Regions from separate parts of the Homo sapiens genome. Here region 2 is linked to region 1. The links come from fine-mapping of genetic effects on gene expression. A gene starts in region 1. The other region holds a variant in brackets. All regions are shown on one strand. Distances are from middle to middle.

Evidence for each region. PIP is the estimated chance that this variant, and not a neighbour inherited with it, causes the effect.
Region 2: its variant is fine-mapped to the expression of TMED6 in prostate (GTEx, PIP 0.92).

The regions. Positions count from the first base shown.
Region 1 is chr16:69,349,219-69,353,606 of GRCh38, reverse strand. It overlaps TMED6 (transmembrane p24 trafficking protein 6), which reads left to right and starts at 1,821. Exons shown (of 4, transcript NM_144676.4): 1 at 1,821-2,066; 2 at 3,956-4,082. The coding sequence starts at 1,854.
Region 2 is chr16:69,319,055-69,323,442 of GRCh38, reverse strand. It overlaps VPS4A (vacuolar protein sorting 4 homolog A), which reads right to left. Exons shown (of 11, transcript NM_013245.3): 6 at 3,900-4,056; 7 at 3,154-3,302; 8 at 2,674-2,755; 9 at 2,173-2,392; 10 at 743-883. Among named protein-coding and RNA genes, the nearest start is that of PDF, 9.3 kb to the left of the region's middle. The variant G/A (reference allele first, on the strand shown) is at 2,664.

The DNA of each region.
Region 1 (4,388 bases):
AAGTTCCCAGACTCTTCTGTCACTTGAGCAAGACTGCCATAGAGCCACTGTGCTCCCAGAGTGCTGTGCTGTCATTTGGCCTTTGCTAGAACTGAACCCCATGTATAGAGTCTGTTTTCTGCCTACTTAGCTTGTGACACTTTGAGTCAATGCAAATAATTGCTGGAAGGTGTTAATGCTGTTTTGTTTTTTGTTTTTTAAGATTATGACTAAGGCTAGGCACGGTGGCTCACACCTGTAATCCTAGCACTTCAGGAGGCCAAAGCATGGGGATCACTTGAGCCCAGGAGTTTGAGACCAGCCTAGGCAACATGGCAAAACCTCATCTCTACAAACAATACAAAAATCAGCCAGGTGTGGTGGTGCACTCCTGTGGGTCCAGCTACTTGGGAGGCTGAGGTGGGAGGATCGTTTGAGCCCAAGGGGGTGAGGCTGCAGTGAGCTATGTTTGTGCCACTGCACTCCAGCCTGGAAGACAGAGTGATACCATCTCAAGGAAGCAAAAAAAAAAAAAAAAAAAAAAGATTAGGACTGAAAAATGGTTAGGCAGTGTCAGAACTCAGAGACTGACAGCTTGAGAATGAGAAACACTGTCCTGCCTGGTGGTTAAGAGCATGAGCCCCCACCGGGGACCCAGCTCTGCCAGGTGTGCTTGTGGGAGCGTGAGCCACCACTGGAATCTCTGAATGTCTGTGTCCTCATCTCTAATGCCAGAGCTCACAATACCTCCCTTGCAGGGCTATTGTGAGAATAAAATAAGATGCAGGTAAATCTTAGCTCAGTGCCTGCCATGAAGGAGGTGGGTGTTGAAATCATGAATAAAAGAATAAAGATTAAGGATGTGAATAATATAATTGTCTTTAAGTGGGTTCTGGATAGTTTTTTCCCCCATGGGTGCTGAAGAAGTCCTGAATAAAAGAAAGATCAAGGCTGGGCGTGGTGGCTCATGCCTGTAATCCCAGCATTCTGGGAGGCCGAGGCGGGTGGATTACTTGAGGTCAGGAGTTCGAGACCAGCCTGGCCAACATAGTAAAACCCTGTCTCTACTAAAAATTCAAAAATTAGCCGGGCATGGTGGCAGGCACCTGTAATTCCAGCTACTCAGGAGGCTGAGGCAGGAGAATCGCTTGAACCGGGGAGGTGGAGGTTGCAGCGAGCAGAGATCGTGCCACTGCACTCCAGCCTGGGTGACAAAGCTACGCTCCATCTCAGAAAAAAAAAAAAAAAAAAAAAAAAAGATTGAGGCTTTGGATAATATAATTGTCTTTCAGTGGGTTTGGATAGCTTTAGGTGACCGTTAGGTGAAAGGCATCAGGACGAGGACTGTCAGTGGAGGGGTCTAAGCACCATCCTCTGGCACTGTATTCATCCATTTACATCTTTGCACACACATGCTGTGATTTGCTCTGAGCTGCAGCATTGGGGAGAGAGAAGTGTTGCCCCATGTGTTTATAGGAGCAATTTGATGTAAGAGAACAATCCCCCCAGCCAACTTTTTGTCAGTGTATTCAGAAGTTGTAAACTTACCCACTATTATATCCCCAAGAAGCAGGAACTAAAAAATGACAGCCCTAATGAAGGGTGGAAAGACCTCTTCTGAGGTGGTAGATTCTATGTAGCACCCATGAAGTAGGTTTGGTAAGCCACTGAGTTTTTGAGGTGAAAGCAAAATTTCCTCCTGCGAGCCAAACATGGGAGTATCATGGCAGTTCTATGATGAATATCTATGTGTGGCCCTGAAATGGGCCGTAATGTGACTTGTGGAGTTAATCATTAGCCCAGCGGTTGTCTGAACGACTTGATTTCCCTGGGCTGCGAGCAGTTCACCTGCAGAGGAGGCTCCAGAAAGCGGCATGTCCCCTTTGCTCTTTGGGGCTGGGCTGGTCGTTCTGAATCTAGTGACGTCTGCCAGGAGCCAGAAGACAGAACCTCTAAGTGGCTCTGGGGACCAGCCACTCTTCCGTGGAGCTGATCGATATGACTTTGCCATCATGATACCTCCAGGAGGCACGGAATGCTTTTGGCAATTTGCCCACCAGACTGGATACTTCTATTTCAGTTACGAGGTATGTGGGTGACTGGCCATACTGGGGGGCTTTTTTTTTTCTCCTTTACTCATAAAGTGGGTCAGGTTTTAGGCCAAAACAAGGTCTGGTTGTCTTTATTATGCTGTGATTCCCCACCTGTTAATGAAATGGACCTGCAGTTAGAGGGAAACTCCAGCTGGGTGAATAATCACCAACAGGAGCTAAAACATATGGTTTGGCTTCTTACATCAGGGGCCATGCTCAAAGCCATGGGGCAGACGGGGTGCCTCTCCCTGAAGAGGTAATCATTACATGTACTCGGATTTGGGGATGAGAGGGGAGAGAATACATTTTTAATATATTAAAACAAAATTGGATAATGGTGCTTTGGAGACTGATCCAGAGATTTCAAAGAAGGCTGCTTCAGCTTATGGGGTGGGGGAGTAAAGGTTCTGCTGCCTTTAGGAGCAATTCTGGCAAGTCAGAGATTCACTAGGTCAAGTTTTTTGTATTCGGCCAGTTAATCCTATTTTTTTTTTTTAGGACGGTAAGTGTTTTCAAGTTACTTATTCAAAGGTCAAGTACTTTTACCCATACTATGGTCTTATATCATGCTGTCCAAGGATGGTGAACTCAGTATGAAAGTTAGAGGCTGTTCATTTCCTTTGTTCTTTATCTTAGAAATCGGTTAACTTTCTAATTTTTGTTTACATAGTAATAGACTTTGTTGATCTTACTCCACTGTAACAACATTTATTTTAAATAAACTTATCAGAGACTTTTCTTACCTCTGAATTTCTATTAGAACAGCAGCCACTACTAAGCTCACTGTGGCCTGGCCTAATCAAGATCTAGCTTGGGAGCAAGTGTCCATGGAGTGCTTGTTGTAGGTGTGCACTGCCAAGCAGCAAATGCCCAAATCTGGGACATCATTGGGGAGCTCAACCACCAAGCAAGTTCATTCAAGAACTCTACAGCCAGGCCGGGTGCGGTGGCTCACATCTGTCATCCCAGCACTTTGGGAGGCTGAGGCAGGCGGATCACCTGAGGTCAGGAGTTCGAGACCACCTTGGCCAATATGGTGAAAACGCATCTCTACTAAAAATACAAAAATTAGCCGGGCTTGGTGGCATGTGCCTGTAATCCCAGCTACTTGGGTGGCTGAGGCAGGAGAATCGCTTGAACCTGGGAGGTGGAGGTTGCAGTGAGCCAAGATCACTGCACTCCAGCCTGGGTGACAGAGCAAGACTCCGTCTCAAAAAAAATAAAAAATTCTACAGCCAGAATCGTACTTTTTTTTTTTTTTTTTTGACAGAGTGTTGCTCTGTCGCTCAGGCTGGAGTGCAGTGGCATGATCTCGAGTCACTGCAATCCCTGCCTCCCGGGTTCAAGCAATTCTCCTGCCTCAGCCTCCAAAGTAGCTGGGATTATAGGCGCACGCCACCATGCCAGGCTAATTTTTGTATTTTTTAAGTAGAGACAGGGTTTCACCATGTTAGCCAGGCTGGTCTCGAACTCCTGACCTTGTAATCTGCCCACCTCGGCCTCCCAAAGTGCTGGGATTACAGGCGTGAGCCACCGCGCCCGGCCCAGAATCATACATTTTAGTGGATCCACACTAGCTGTGTGTTCCGAGCAAGGCATGTCTTCTTCACACGGGTGCTGTTGGCATTCTGGGCAGTTCTTTGTCCTGCTGTACTGTTTCTTACATTGCAGACGTTCAGCAATGCTGTGCTGCCTCCCCTTAACACCATCACTGTGATACCTCAGAATCCTCCAATCAACTCCAAACCCCAGCAGGGGGTTGGGCAGTCCCACCCCAGACAGAGACCGCTGTGCTGATGACCGTGGGACGTCAATCTTACCACTCAGCTGGCTTCCTCGTGATGTAGCAGGGGTTCTGCTACCTATTTAATGTGTCTTGGCAGGTTCAGCGGACAGTGGGGATGTCACATGACCGGCATGTTGCTGCCACGGCACATAACCCACAGGGATTTCTCATAGACACCTCCCAGGGTGTTCGGGGCCAGATTAACTTCTCTACCCAAGAGACAGGTCTGTTTTCATTACCATGGCTATTATAATAATCATAGGGTCCTATGAAATTACAGAAATAATGAGGAAGTATACAGAGATGTTTTAACAGTAGGAAAAAAATTCAGCCTTTAACACCAAAAACCAGTGTTCCTGGAGGCTGCTGACCTCCAAGGATGCCAAGTGGCAGTCTACTGACGATTTGGGGGCAACACTCCAGGTGAGCATTCTAAGTCTAGGGTTCAGCCGCTCAATTTTATCTCATCATCTCCAGTTAATCAGATTCTGGGAAAGTGACCAAAAAACAGAGACCCATTTATAATACAG
Region 2 (4,388 bases), 30 kb after region 1:
TGGCTCAGCTCATGCTTGTAATCCCAGCACTTTGGGAGGCCACGCTGAGAGGATCACTTGAGCCCAGCAGTTTCAGACTGGCCTGGGCAACACTGTGAGGCCGTTTCTAAAAAAAAAAGGAAAAATTAGCTGGGCATGATGGTGTGTGCCTGTTGCTACTCAGGAGGCTGAGGTCAGAAGATTGTGTGAGCTCGTGAGGTCAAGCCTGCAGTGAGCTATCACTGCACCACTGCATCTAGCCTTTCTCTGTATGTACAAAATGCTAATGCTGCCACCTGCATTCTGGGCCCCCAGTGAGTGTAATGCCAGCTTCCCTGAGCTACAAAGGCCATTCTCAACAGCCCAGGACATAGAAGAAGACTATTTTTTATTTTTGAGACGGAGTCTCACTCTGTCACCCAGGCTGGAGTGCAGTGGCCCAATCTCTGCTCACTGCAACCTCTGCCTCCCGGCTTCAAGCGATCCTTCTGCCTCAGCCTCCTGAGTAGCTGGGACTACAAGTGCACACCACCACACCCGGCTAATTTTTGTATTTTTAGTAGAGACAGGGTTTCTCCATATTGGCTAGGCTGGTCTCGAACTCCTAACCTTGTGATCTGCCCACCCTGGCCTCCCAAAGTGCTGGGATTACAGGCGTGAGCTACCATGCCTGGCCTGGAGAAGACCGTTTTTATTCTGGACCCAAACCCTCAATTTTCTGGGCTCTGTGCAGCCCTCTTCCCTCCCCTGTCAAGTCACTTACCATGCAAACCACAGGCTCTAAGAGTTTGTCCCCAGGGACATCCATCCAAGTCATCTCCATGGCTCCTGGGTCCCCTGGTGAGCATGGAGTCAGGAGGTCATCAATCATCATGCTGGGGTTGGTGCGAGAGGGGCCACAGACCTGAAACCAAATGGATCTGACTGGGGCAGCTGCCCCTCAGTGTCAGAGGGGCTCGACCCCTCCGGTCTCTAAGGAAGTCCCAAAGAGAATGCTCTGTGGGTCCCTAGCATCTGAGGAGGACGGGCTCCTTCAGAACTCGGGCTGGGTGGTCCGAGCGACTCATGATTTGCATGGGACTCTGGCAATCTGTAGCCCCAATGCCTTGATGTCTTCCTCATTAACACTGTCACGTCTCACCAGGAATACAGTGACATTAAAAGTGTGATATGGTTTAGCTGTGCCCCCACCCACATTTCAACTTGAACTGTATCTATCTCCCAGAATTCCCACATGTTGTGGGAGGGACCCAGGGGGAGGTAACTGAATCATGGGGGCTGGTCTTTCCCGTGCTATTCTCGTGATGGTGAAGTCTCACGAGATCTGATGGGTTTATCAGGGGTTTCCACTTTTGTTTCTTCATTTTCTCTTGCCACCAGCATGTAAGAAGTGCCTTTGGTCTCCTACCATGATTCTGAGGCCTCCCTAGCCATGTGGAACTGTAAGGCCAATTAAACCTCTTTTTCTTCCCAGTCTCGGGTATGTCTTTATCAGCAGCATGAAAATAGATTAACACAAAGTGGTTTTCCAACTGAAGTCCGCTGCCTTGGCAAAACATTCCCCCAATGTCCACAAGGCTCATTCCCTCACACCTTCACCTCCTGTCTCAGGCATCACCCCAGTGCCATCTGCCCTTCCCTCCATGCCCGAGACACCTCTCTCCTAACCCTGCTCCATCTCCATCCTCTGAGACACTCACTGACTGTGTTGACTGTCTCCCCACCAACAACGGAAGGTCTAGGATTTTTGTCTGTTGGTCACTCATATCTTCCCAGCACTTAGGACAGGGCCGGGCACACAGGAGGACCCACAGCAAATACTCAGCAGAGATCTGCTGAATGAATAGACAGGTCTTCCTGGTCATTTTATATCCAACACTTTCCAAACACTGATTTGGTGTCCACCCCGCACAAGAGCACACAGTGCTGACGGAGGAGGCCGCAGCAGGGTTAAGACAGTAAAGTGGCCCTGTCCTCTGCTTTCACACACCCTGAGATGGCCACACTCCAGAAGAGCTGCAGGGAGGGGACAGTGGGTGCAGCCCCCATGGCACTGGCCCTCGGCTCTCCAGGAGGCCTCAGAGACTGTGTCACCTGAGCAGCCGGGGAGCAGGACCAGGAGCTGGGAAAAAAAAAACCGAACATCCCGCTCTTACTATGAGATTTTTCTCAGCAGTGGCCGCGGGCACTCACCTTTTTGAAGTGTGTGGCCGACTGCACCTTCCTCACGGGCTGCATGAGAGAGTCCCGCACGATGATGCTGATGTCCGCGCCCGAGTAGCCTTCCGTCTTCCGGGCCAGCTCGTGGATGTTTGCATCCGTGAGGTTGTGGGGAGTGCTCCCGAGATGCAACCGGAACATCTGGGCGCGGGCAGCTTCCTCCGGCAAGGGGATATAAATTCGTTTTTCAAACCTAGAGAGCCCAGCACACGGCAGGAGTTGACAGCGGATGATGGAATGGTATTCACGGAAGGGGAGGCACGAAGATTTGAGTGAAACGGACGCATTTCATGGGCCAGTGATGCTGGCGGCACATCCTCAACAAGCCAGCCTCACAAAGGGCTCTGCTTGGCAGGCAGACGGGAAGACTCCAGGGAAAAGGGGCCAGGCTGCACCCGGGCTGCCAGCAGCAGGCGGACCGTGACCATGGTGGGAGGAAGCCTCCAGCCCTGGCTTCTCCTGGG[G/A]AAGACTCACCTCCTCCTGATGGCCGAATCCAACACCCATGGGATGTTTGTGGCTCCAAGAACCAGAGTCCCATCATTGTTATTCCCCACCCCTGTGGAGAAAGGGAGACAAAGACTCAGACTCTGGACACCTGCACGGGTCAGTTGAAACCTGGGGACAGACCCCGGGGGCTTTGTGTGTCAGCAATTGAAGCCATCCCTGTGCCACCCACCACTGGCAGGGTCCCAAGTGAGATTAAACCACATCTTGGTCTGGCTGTGCCAGGTGAGACCTATGGCACTGCCTGCCATGGGAGGGGTGGAGTGGCCCGTGAGGCAGAGGCCTCAGGCACCTCTTGGGAATTGAAGTCCACCCGTGCCCTGAGGGGCTGGAGCTGGGGAGTGCCTCTCCGAGGCTGAGAACAACCAAATCCAGCCGCAGCTCAGAATAAAGCCCAGGGTTGGCTTCAGGTGCAACAAGAACCAAGGGGGCCCTGGGCCCGGCACACACCCTGCATCTGGACCAAGAACTCCGTTTTGATCCTCCGGGCGGCCTCACTCTCATTTTCATTTCGGGACCCGCAGAGGGAATCCACCTCATCGATGAAGATGATGGAGGGCTTGTGCTGCCTGGCCAGCTCAAACAGGTTCTTGACCAGCCTGTGAAGGTGAGAAAGGGGGTGAGGACAAGACGTTCACGTCCGTGCCCGCCTGGGCTCCCGGCACTTCCCTCTTCTCACCCTTCCCACAGGGAGGCGCAGGCCACGGTCATGCCGGAATTGCGGAAAACGTGGTGGTGAGGAGCCCTCGGGCCACACTGCACCAAGAGGAGGAGCACACCTTGGTGTCAGCCCCAAACGCAGAGCCTCAATCCCAGGAGCCCCATGCGCTAGCTCTGCACTTACAACACGTCAGTCCCCTTCTTCCGAGCCCGTCTCATCACACGCAAAACAGGAGTCAGTGTGGGGAACCATGTCCCCCACACACTGCCCCAACAGGGACCGCAACCCAGACCCCAAAAATATCCTCACTTCCTTTCCCTTCTCTTGTGGAGCACTTCACCTCTCCCAGGTCCCTTCCACCTTCACTTGTCTTTGTTGGGACTGTGTCCCAGCCGATAAGCTAGCGACACACTGCTCTTGGGTACCCTCCCTGAAAACCAAACCACTCCTCTGAGAGGTGACTCCACAGGGTGGGCCGCTGGGTCACTAGCAGTGCCGGGGCTGCTGGCAGAGCATGGCCTGGTGGCCGACTTACTTTTCACTCTCCCCCAGCCACTTGGACATCAGATCTGAGGAGGACACAGAGAAGAAGGTGGAGTTGTTGGCCTCTGTTGCCACGGCTTTGGCCAGGTAGGATTTCCCTGTGCCAGGGGGTCCGAACAGCAGAATCCCCCGCCAGGGGGTGCGCTTGCCTGCAACAGAGAACCACAGAAGTTAGGCCTCCTGACTGGGGAAAGGAATAGGAAAAGCAGAGGGTCTCGAGTCCCATACATACAGTAAAACAGGGCATTCTGTGAAACAACGGACTCTACTGGCAAACAAGTGATGGGAGCTACATTCCCTGCTGTGCCCTGTGCTATGACCCCATGACCTTGCACAGTGCCCCTGCTATGACCCCATGACCTTGCACAGTGACACCGGCTGGCACTGCTTCCTGATCCTGCCCCCACCCTGTGACGTGATCGTCATCTCATAGCTCCAGCCACAGCAGTGTTGTGGACACCAGCGAGCAGCCAGGCCTGGC